2 linked regions of the Homo sapiens genome follow. The protein of the gene in region 2 interacts with the protein of the main gene of each other region in a biochemical or structural test. Each region holds a gene or a part of one and is shown on either strand. Other genes may lie near its edges.

Evidence for each region. Proteins that work in one complex are often made in the same cells at the same time.
Region 1: of the proteins of IRF4 (region 2) and USP4, one has a biochemical effect on the other in vitro, tested with the Homo sapiens proteins (one study listed by BioGRID).

The regions. Positions count from the first base shown.
Region 1 is NC_000003.12:49,284,554-49,288,206, forward strand, and holds part of USP4 (ubiquitin carboxyl-terminal hydrolase 4), read right to left. Parts: intron 1,773-3,653; coding exon 1,545-1,772; intron 367-1,544; coding exon 296-366; intron 32-295; coding exon 1-31.
Region 2 is NC_000006.12:394,716-398,368, forward strand, and holds part of IRF4 (interferon regulatory factor 4), read left to right. Parts: intron 1-105; coding exon 106-292; intron 293-1,131; coding exon 1,132-1,220; intron 1,221-2,392; coding exon 2,393-2,537; intron 2,538-3,653. UniProt on the Homo sapiens protein: Transcriptional activator. Binds to the interferon-stimulated response element (ISRE) of the MHC class I promoter. Binds the immunoglobulin lambda light chain enhancer, together with PU.1.

The DNA of each region.
Region 1 (3,653 bases), on a different chromosome or scaffold from region 2:
GCTGCAACATGCTCACATGCTTCTCGTAGGCCTATGGGAATCAAAGCACTCAGTTCTGCTGGAGAAAGAGATCTTACTGCATTAAGACATGAAGGCCTACAGAGGCTCTCCCACCTGGAATGTAGTACACTTTCTAGAGCCTCTGAATATAAAATGACAAAATCTTGAAGTGCTTTTCCTTCTCAGTCTTAAATATAACTTGCTAAATTGCTGTCCAACTGGTGAAAGTGATCGCAGTCCACATCCAGAGCAGAAACCAGCAGACACCACCGACCACGAACCCCGAGGGACCTACCTCAGATTCTTGCTCATCATAGTAAAGTCTCCGAGTTTCACTGTCCCAATCCATGGCCAGTGTAGATCGAGCTGAGGAGGACCAAAATGTCACTTGTTATGGAATGGCAAGCAACAGGAAAGGCTCTCCAAGTGACAGGAGTGAGAAGGACCACACTCAGGCCACACCATCAACACCTTCTCCCCCATCAGCAGCCAGTGTCAAGAGCAATGCTCTGCAATGGGCCAGCCCTTCTGACCCCCAGCCCCAAAAAGCCTTTGGCAAAGACTTCCTCAGTGATACAGATAAGCTACGAAGGAACTAACTGTGGAGAATTCTGAAAGGGCACAGGTCAAGATGGGAGTAATAGGGACCAGATTTATCATCCTACCATAAACCACAAAAAAACTGACAAAATGGATGAAACAATTGTTTTCAGACATTGGATAGAGCAGGAAGGAGATCCCTGACAGAAGGAAAAAAAAAAAGAGACCCCTACATCGCCCTAGCTTATTGCCTGCAGGCAGTTTCCAGGACTTAGCATAGGGGAGAGAGGGGAAGATTAAGCTGAAAAGTCAAAGACTGGAGTTTGAGAAGATGGCTAGAATTTGCAAGGCATTCCAGCCTGGGCAACATAGTGAGACCCTGTCTCTACACAAACTACAAATATTAGCTGGGTGTGGTGGTGCACACCTGTAGTCTCAGCTACTCAGGAGGGTGAGGTGGGAAGGGAGCTGAAAGACAGAGATGCTTCTCCTCCCCTAACTGGCAAAGGTGTCCTCACTGGCCAATTGTGCTTTTCACACAACCCCTCAGAATGCCTCTTCCTGTCTGTAGAGCAGTCCCCATTACAACCTCCATGTGTCGGTGAGGCTACAAAATCCATGACCATCCTCTGAATGGGTACATTTCGTGAGTATTAATGAACAAAATAAATATGCGCTTATTCTTATAAGTGAGCAAGTATGGGGAAATGTTGCTGCCAAGGGTGGCCACAGGAAAGGTTATCGACCCACAGCAAATTCCCGCAGAGGGAGTGGAGGGAGACCTACTTTCCTCTGAGGTCATCGAGGACTGAGGAGAAAAGCCTGAAAGGTAGGGGGATCTCTGAAACAGTCCTTAGGGGGCTTCAAGCCAAGGGTCATACAAGTGCTGCTCCTGGAGGCACAGAGACTGTGAAAGCCCAATGCAGTGAGTGTCAAGTGTAAGGATTTTCAAACAGATCCTAAGACCCTAAAGCCCAGCTTGAAAGGTCAGAAAAAGTGCTTACAGTTGAGTTTAAGTAGTTTTCCATCAGCTGCAAGTGAATTTATGTCAGCTGTTCCATAGGAGTTCACAAGACTGAAGGTAAAAAGCCTTTTTGGGCAGGGCTGGCCTTTGATCTTCTTTTGGGTGGTCTCACTGGGGTCATTTCCTGGCTCATCTTCCCCACTGCCTTCTGTTTCTGAAAGCTGCTCTTTGCCTTCTTCCTGATGCTCCATTTCTTCCTCATCTTCTCCTGGCACATAAATGGAAAACAATATGTATATAATTTCCTACCATTTCAATGTTAAAAATTTTATTTAATACATAACTATGGTGTTTCCTTCCAGATTTTGTTCTGTGTATATGAAGTTAAATCTATTCCTTTGCATTTAACTTGAATTCACATGTGACTCTCACCACACCCTTGCAAGACAGGCAGACTGGGCACTGCTATTCCACGATGAGGAGGCAGTCTCAGAGAGCTTAAATGAGCCACCTGCAGGCACAATGAGATTCAGAAGCCCTGCCATCCTGTCTACTGGCCATCACAGCACATGGTCTCTCACTCTTGCAACTTCACCATTAGGCCCACAGAGAGAAAAGGGCTTAAATGAAACGCACACTCAACACTCAAGAAGACAGCTTGGTAAGAAACACTATCTATCTTCCATTCCATCCATTCCTTCCATCCATCCATCCATCATCCATCCATCTATCCATCCGAGACAGTCTCACTCTAGCCACTCTATCTATCTATCTATCTATCTATCTATCTATCTATCTATCTATCTATCTGAGATGGAGTCTCACTCTGTCACCCAGGCTAGAGTGCAATGGCACGATCTCGGCTCACTGCAACCTTCACCTCCCAGGTTCAAGCGATTCTCCTACCTCAGCCTCCTGAGTAGCAGGGATTACAGGTGTGCGCCACCATGCCCAGCTAATTTTTATATCTTTTTAGTAGAGACGGGGTTTCACCATGTTGGTCAGGCTGGTCTCGAACTCCTGACCTCAGATGATCCACCGGCCTTGGCCTCCCAAAGTGCTAGGATTACAGACGTGAGCCACTGCACCTGGCCCTATTTATTTATTTATTTTTTGAGACGGAGTCTCACTCTTTCGTCCAGGCTGGAATGCAATGGCGTGATCTCAGCTCACTGCAACCTCCGCCTTCTGGGTTCAAGCAATTCTCCTGCCTCAGCCTCCCAAGTAGCTGGGACTACAGGTGCGTGCTACCACACCCGGCTACTTTTTTGTATTTTTAGTAGAGACAAGGGTTCACCATGTTCACCAGGATGGTCTCTAGCTCCTGACCTCGTGATCCGCCCGCCCCGGCTTCCCAAAGTACTGGGATTACAGGTGCGAGCCACTGCACCCGGCCAAGAAACACAACTTAAAGGTCAATTGCCTTTTTTTTTGAAGTGGAGTCTCACTCTGTTGCCCAGGCTAGAGTACATTGGTGCAATCTCGGCTCACTGCCACCTCCGCCTCCCAGGTTCAAGCAATTCTGCTGCCTCAGCCTCCTGAATAGCTGTGATTACAGGCACGCACCACCACGCCCAGCTAATTTTTGTATTTTTAGTAGAGACGGGGTTTCTCCATGTTGGCCAAGCAGGTCTCGAACTCCAGCCCTAAAGTGATCTGCCCTCTCGGCCTCCCAAAATGATGGGATTACAGGCGTCAGCCACCAGGCCCAGCTATTTTCAAATATTATAATAAACACAAATATTAAGTATTCCGTTCCTCCAGAAAAAAACCTATCATGAATTTTCCTTTAGTATTTACTAAAGGTCTCTTAGGTGCAGGTACCATGCTAGGTTCCAGGGCTCCATAAGGGGAGCACACAGTCTAAAGTGAAAGTTAAAGTATCAAATAAGTAACTTTAGCAAAGATGGGGACCACTCCAAAAGGTGGTGTAAAAGTAACAGAGAAGAGCAGATTTAAAACAAAGAATCTACATACTTGATCAGTAAAAATGGAAATTCTGAGAAAAGGAGAATGTGCTATTTAAGAGCCCACAACCCCTGGCTCTCATGGAGGTTCCTTTCCGAACTTGCTTAATTCCTGAGATATGACACTGTCCCTTTACACACAATAAGCCTGTCCCCCTCCTACACTGGCAAGAAAAAACCTG
Region 2 (3,653 bases):
CTGTACTCTAGCCTGGGCAGCAGAGCAGGACTCTGATTCCAAAAAGAAAGCTAATAAACCAGACATGTATTTTGACTTTTCGTTCTCTTCATTCTTTCCCACCAGGCTTGGGCACTGTTTAAAGGAAAGTTCCGAGAAGGCATCGACAAGCCGGACCCTCCCACCTGGAAGACGCGCCTGCGGTGCGCTTTGAACAAGAGCAATGACTTTGAGGAACTGGTTGAGCGGAGCCAGCTGGACATCTCAGACCCGTACAAAGTGTACAGGATTGTTCCTGAGGGAGCCAAAAAAGGTAGGGGCTCTCCTGAATTTGGGTCACCTAACAGAGGCAGCCAGATCCTTGAGGCACCTTAACTTCATTCTGAGCATCACTTTCTAGCTTTCCTTTTGTATTGCCTGCCTGCCTGCCTTCTGCCTCACAGTGAAGCCCAGCCTCCTTGCCTGAGTTATGTGGGTCACAAGTTGAAATTCCTGTGGGGTTCAGCATAGGAGAATTAATCACACTGTATGCCTCAATGTATATGGGGGGGGGTGCATTGAATATGTGTTTTCCAGTTAGTCTTTCAAAAAAAAAAAGAAAAAAGAAAACTGGATAACTTGTTAAAATTTACTTATCTAATAGTCTTTAGTGAGTGACTATTTTGCAGAAAAGGAGTAATGAGAGGAATATCTCATCACTATGCATGGTAATAAAACTGTCAACTTTTAAAGTGTAACATGGTCAGCTGAGGTGTTTATTAAAAGTCAGATTCCTGGACCCCTCTTTTCAAGATTCTGACCAGTGTGTCTGGAAGAGAGCTCAGGAATCTGCATCTGGAACAAATCCTTCAGGTGACCTCACTTGGGAAACATCTGGCTGGCGGGGTCCTTTATGTCACAAGGCACATTCGCATGCCATCTGTCATGTATTTCTTTACCTGTCCTGTACAACTCAGACCTTGTAGAAAAAAATCAGTTTAATAGCATGAAAAAATAACTTCCCAAGGGAGTTGCTGAAAAATACCTTATTTGTCAACACCGTGTTATGCATTCTAAGAATTAAATGCTCAGGTATTTTTACAAGATTTGACATTTAGTTAGGTCAGTTCCTGTTTTTACGTTGTGCCATTTCCCTTTTCCCCAAACATGTAGGAGCCAAGCAGCTCACCCTGGAGGACCCGCAGATGTCCATGAGCCACCCCTACACCATGACAACGCCTTACCCTTCGCTCCCAGCCCAGGTATGGTGGAGGGCACTGGGCTCCCTGAGGGCGAGGCTGTGTGGGCCAGCTGCCCACATGGCCAGAGAACCACAGCAGCCCAGACAGCAGAACTTGCCATTTGCTATGGCTGCTCCAACAGCCCAGAAAAACCCCAGGTCACTGAACGAATGTCTCACTTTCCACACGGTGCTGCCATTGGTGTGGATTTTAAGTTGGGGAGGGTCGGGCGTGTCCGCCTGTTGGAATATGCTTCTCAGGTCTTCTGGGAAACAGATGTTTTGTGGAAGTGGAAGATTTTGGAAGTAGTGCCTTATCATGTGAAACCACAGGGCAGCTGATCTCTTCAGGCTTTCTTGATGTGAATGACAGCTTTGTTTCATCCACTTTGGTGGGTAAAAGAAGGCAAATTCCCCTGTGGTACTTTTGGTGCCAGGTTTAGCCATATGACGAAGCTTTACATAAAACAGTACAAGTATCTCCATTGTCCTTTATGATCCTCCATGAGTGTTTTCACTTAGTCTGATGAAGGGTTCACTCCAGTCTTTTCGGATGATAAAATGCTTCGGCTGTCAGTCTAATAAGGGATTCCCTGAGGAGTTTGGAGGCTGTAAGAGCACCCCCCGTCTCAATGCCAGTGCTTCTTATCTCAGCCTCTCCTGCACTCCTTTACCCCCGTCTCGATGCCAGTGCTTCCTATCTCAGCCTCTCCTGCACTCCTTTACCCCCGTCTCGATGCCAGTGCTTCCTATCTCAGCCTCTCCTGCACTCCTTTACCCCCGTCTCGATGCCAGTGCTTCTTATCTCAGCCTCTCCTGCACTCCTTTACCCCCGTCTCAATGCCAGTGCTTCCTATCTCAGCCTCTCCTGCACTCCTTTAACCCCGTCTCGATGCCAGTGCTTCTTATCTCAGCCTCTCCTGCACTCCTTTACCCCCGTCTCAATGCCAGTGCTTCCTATCTCAGCCTCTCCTGCACTCCTTTACCCCCGTCTCAATGCCAGTGCTTCCTATCTCAGCCTCTCCTGCACTCCTTTACCCCCGTCTCGATGCCAGTGCTTCTTATCTCAGCCTCTCCTGCACTCCTTTACCCCCGTCTCGATGCCAGTGCTTCCTATCTCAGCCTCTCCTGCACTCCTTTACCCCCGTCTCAATGCCAGTGCTTCTTATCTCAGCCTCTCCTGCACTCCTTTAGCAGGTTCACAACTACATGATGCCACCCCTCGACCGAAGCTGGAGGGACTACGTCCCGGATCAGCCACACCCGGAAATCCCGTACCAATGTCCCATGACGTTTGGACCCCGCGGCCACCACTGGCAAGGCCCAGCTTGTGAAAATGGTAAGGAGGATACCAGTGCAGGAAATAGAAGAGCTAATTGCTAATGTGGCCATGGGCCATGGCGAATCCTGGTCTGTCCTGGGCAGCACCAAAGCTCTTTCCCCTTCTTAGAGGCTGCGTGTGCAGCTCGGGGAGAGGGGGGTTTTCTCACTCCTGTGGGATGGTGGCATCCCACAGCCAAGTTTACTCTCAGGATCCATGCTAGGCACTGCCCTTCGTGGGATCTTATTTAAACACCACAGAGATCACTCCAGGCAGTGGAAAACAGCCCCCCACTTTTTATATAGAGAGGAGATTGTGGAAGCTCATAAATAATAAGTAGGGATGCTGGGAGATTATTGAGCTGGTATATTTCTCTCGAATAGTGGTGTGTTCATTGTTGCTATTGTTGGAATTAGAGGTGATACTAAAAAAGGAACGGAAAAATACCATGGCAAACACATAAAACGTCTCTACAGGTGCCTACCTACCACTGGGTCCCAGAAAGACTTGCTGATTGTGGATTAGATGTGGTCCCCTGCCCTCGGGAGTTCCCCAGACATCAAAATGAGCTCCCTCAGCAGAAGCTCTCATTAGCTGGGTGCAGGGAGAATCTAGCAATGCGGTAACTCAGGCCTTCAGGACTTTTGAGTTAGTTACTTAAATGGAAGTCCTGAGACAGGTCAACACACTGAACCCTTTGGATGTTTTAGGAATATTTGTTCCTTTGCAATTTGGCCTTTTTTTCCCCAGTCATGTTCAGGTTATCCTTGGCTGCAGGTAGTGAAGAGGTGTACCACTCTTTAATGTTTGTACTGAGTGGCATGTTCACAAAAAAGCTCAGAATTCAGTTGCATTGGCTTTTCAAGAGGGATTTGCAGCAAGGGCTGGTTTCCAATATGGTAGTGGAGGAATTGGCTAACATAAAACTAGCTCCTGAAATTCAGACTTGCGTTTACTGCTCTGGCTCTATGGAATTAGTAACCATGGGAAAGAGGCAATGCTTAGAACTGTGTAAAGTGATGGAGTAGGTAGAGACCTGTCTTGAAGCATCGGTAACAGTAAATGAAGCAGCAGCAAGATCAGGTGTTCTGTGCCACATTCTTTTTCCATTCATGTTTCATACAACATTGTCTT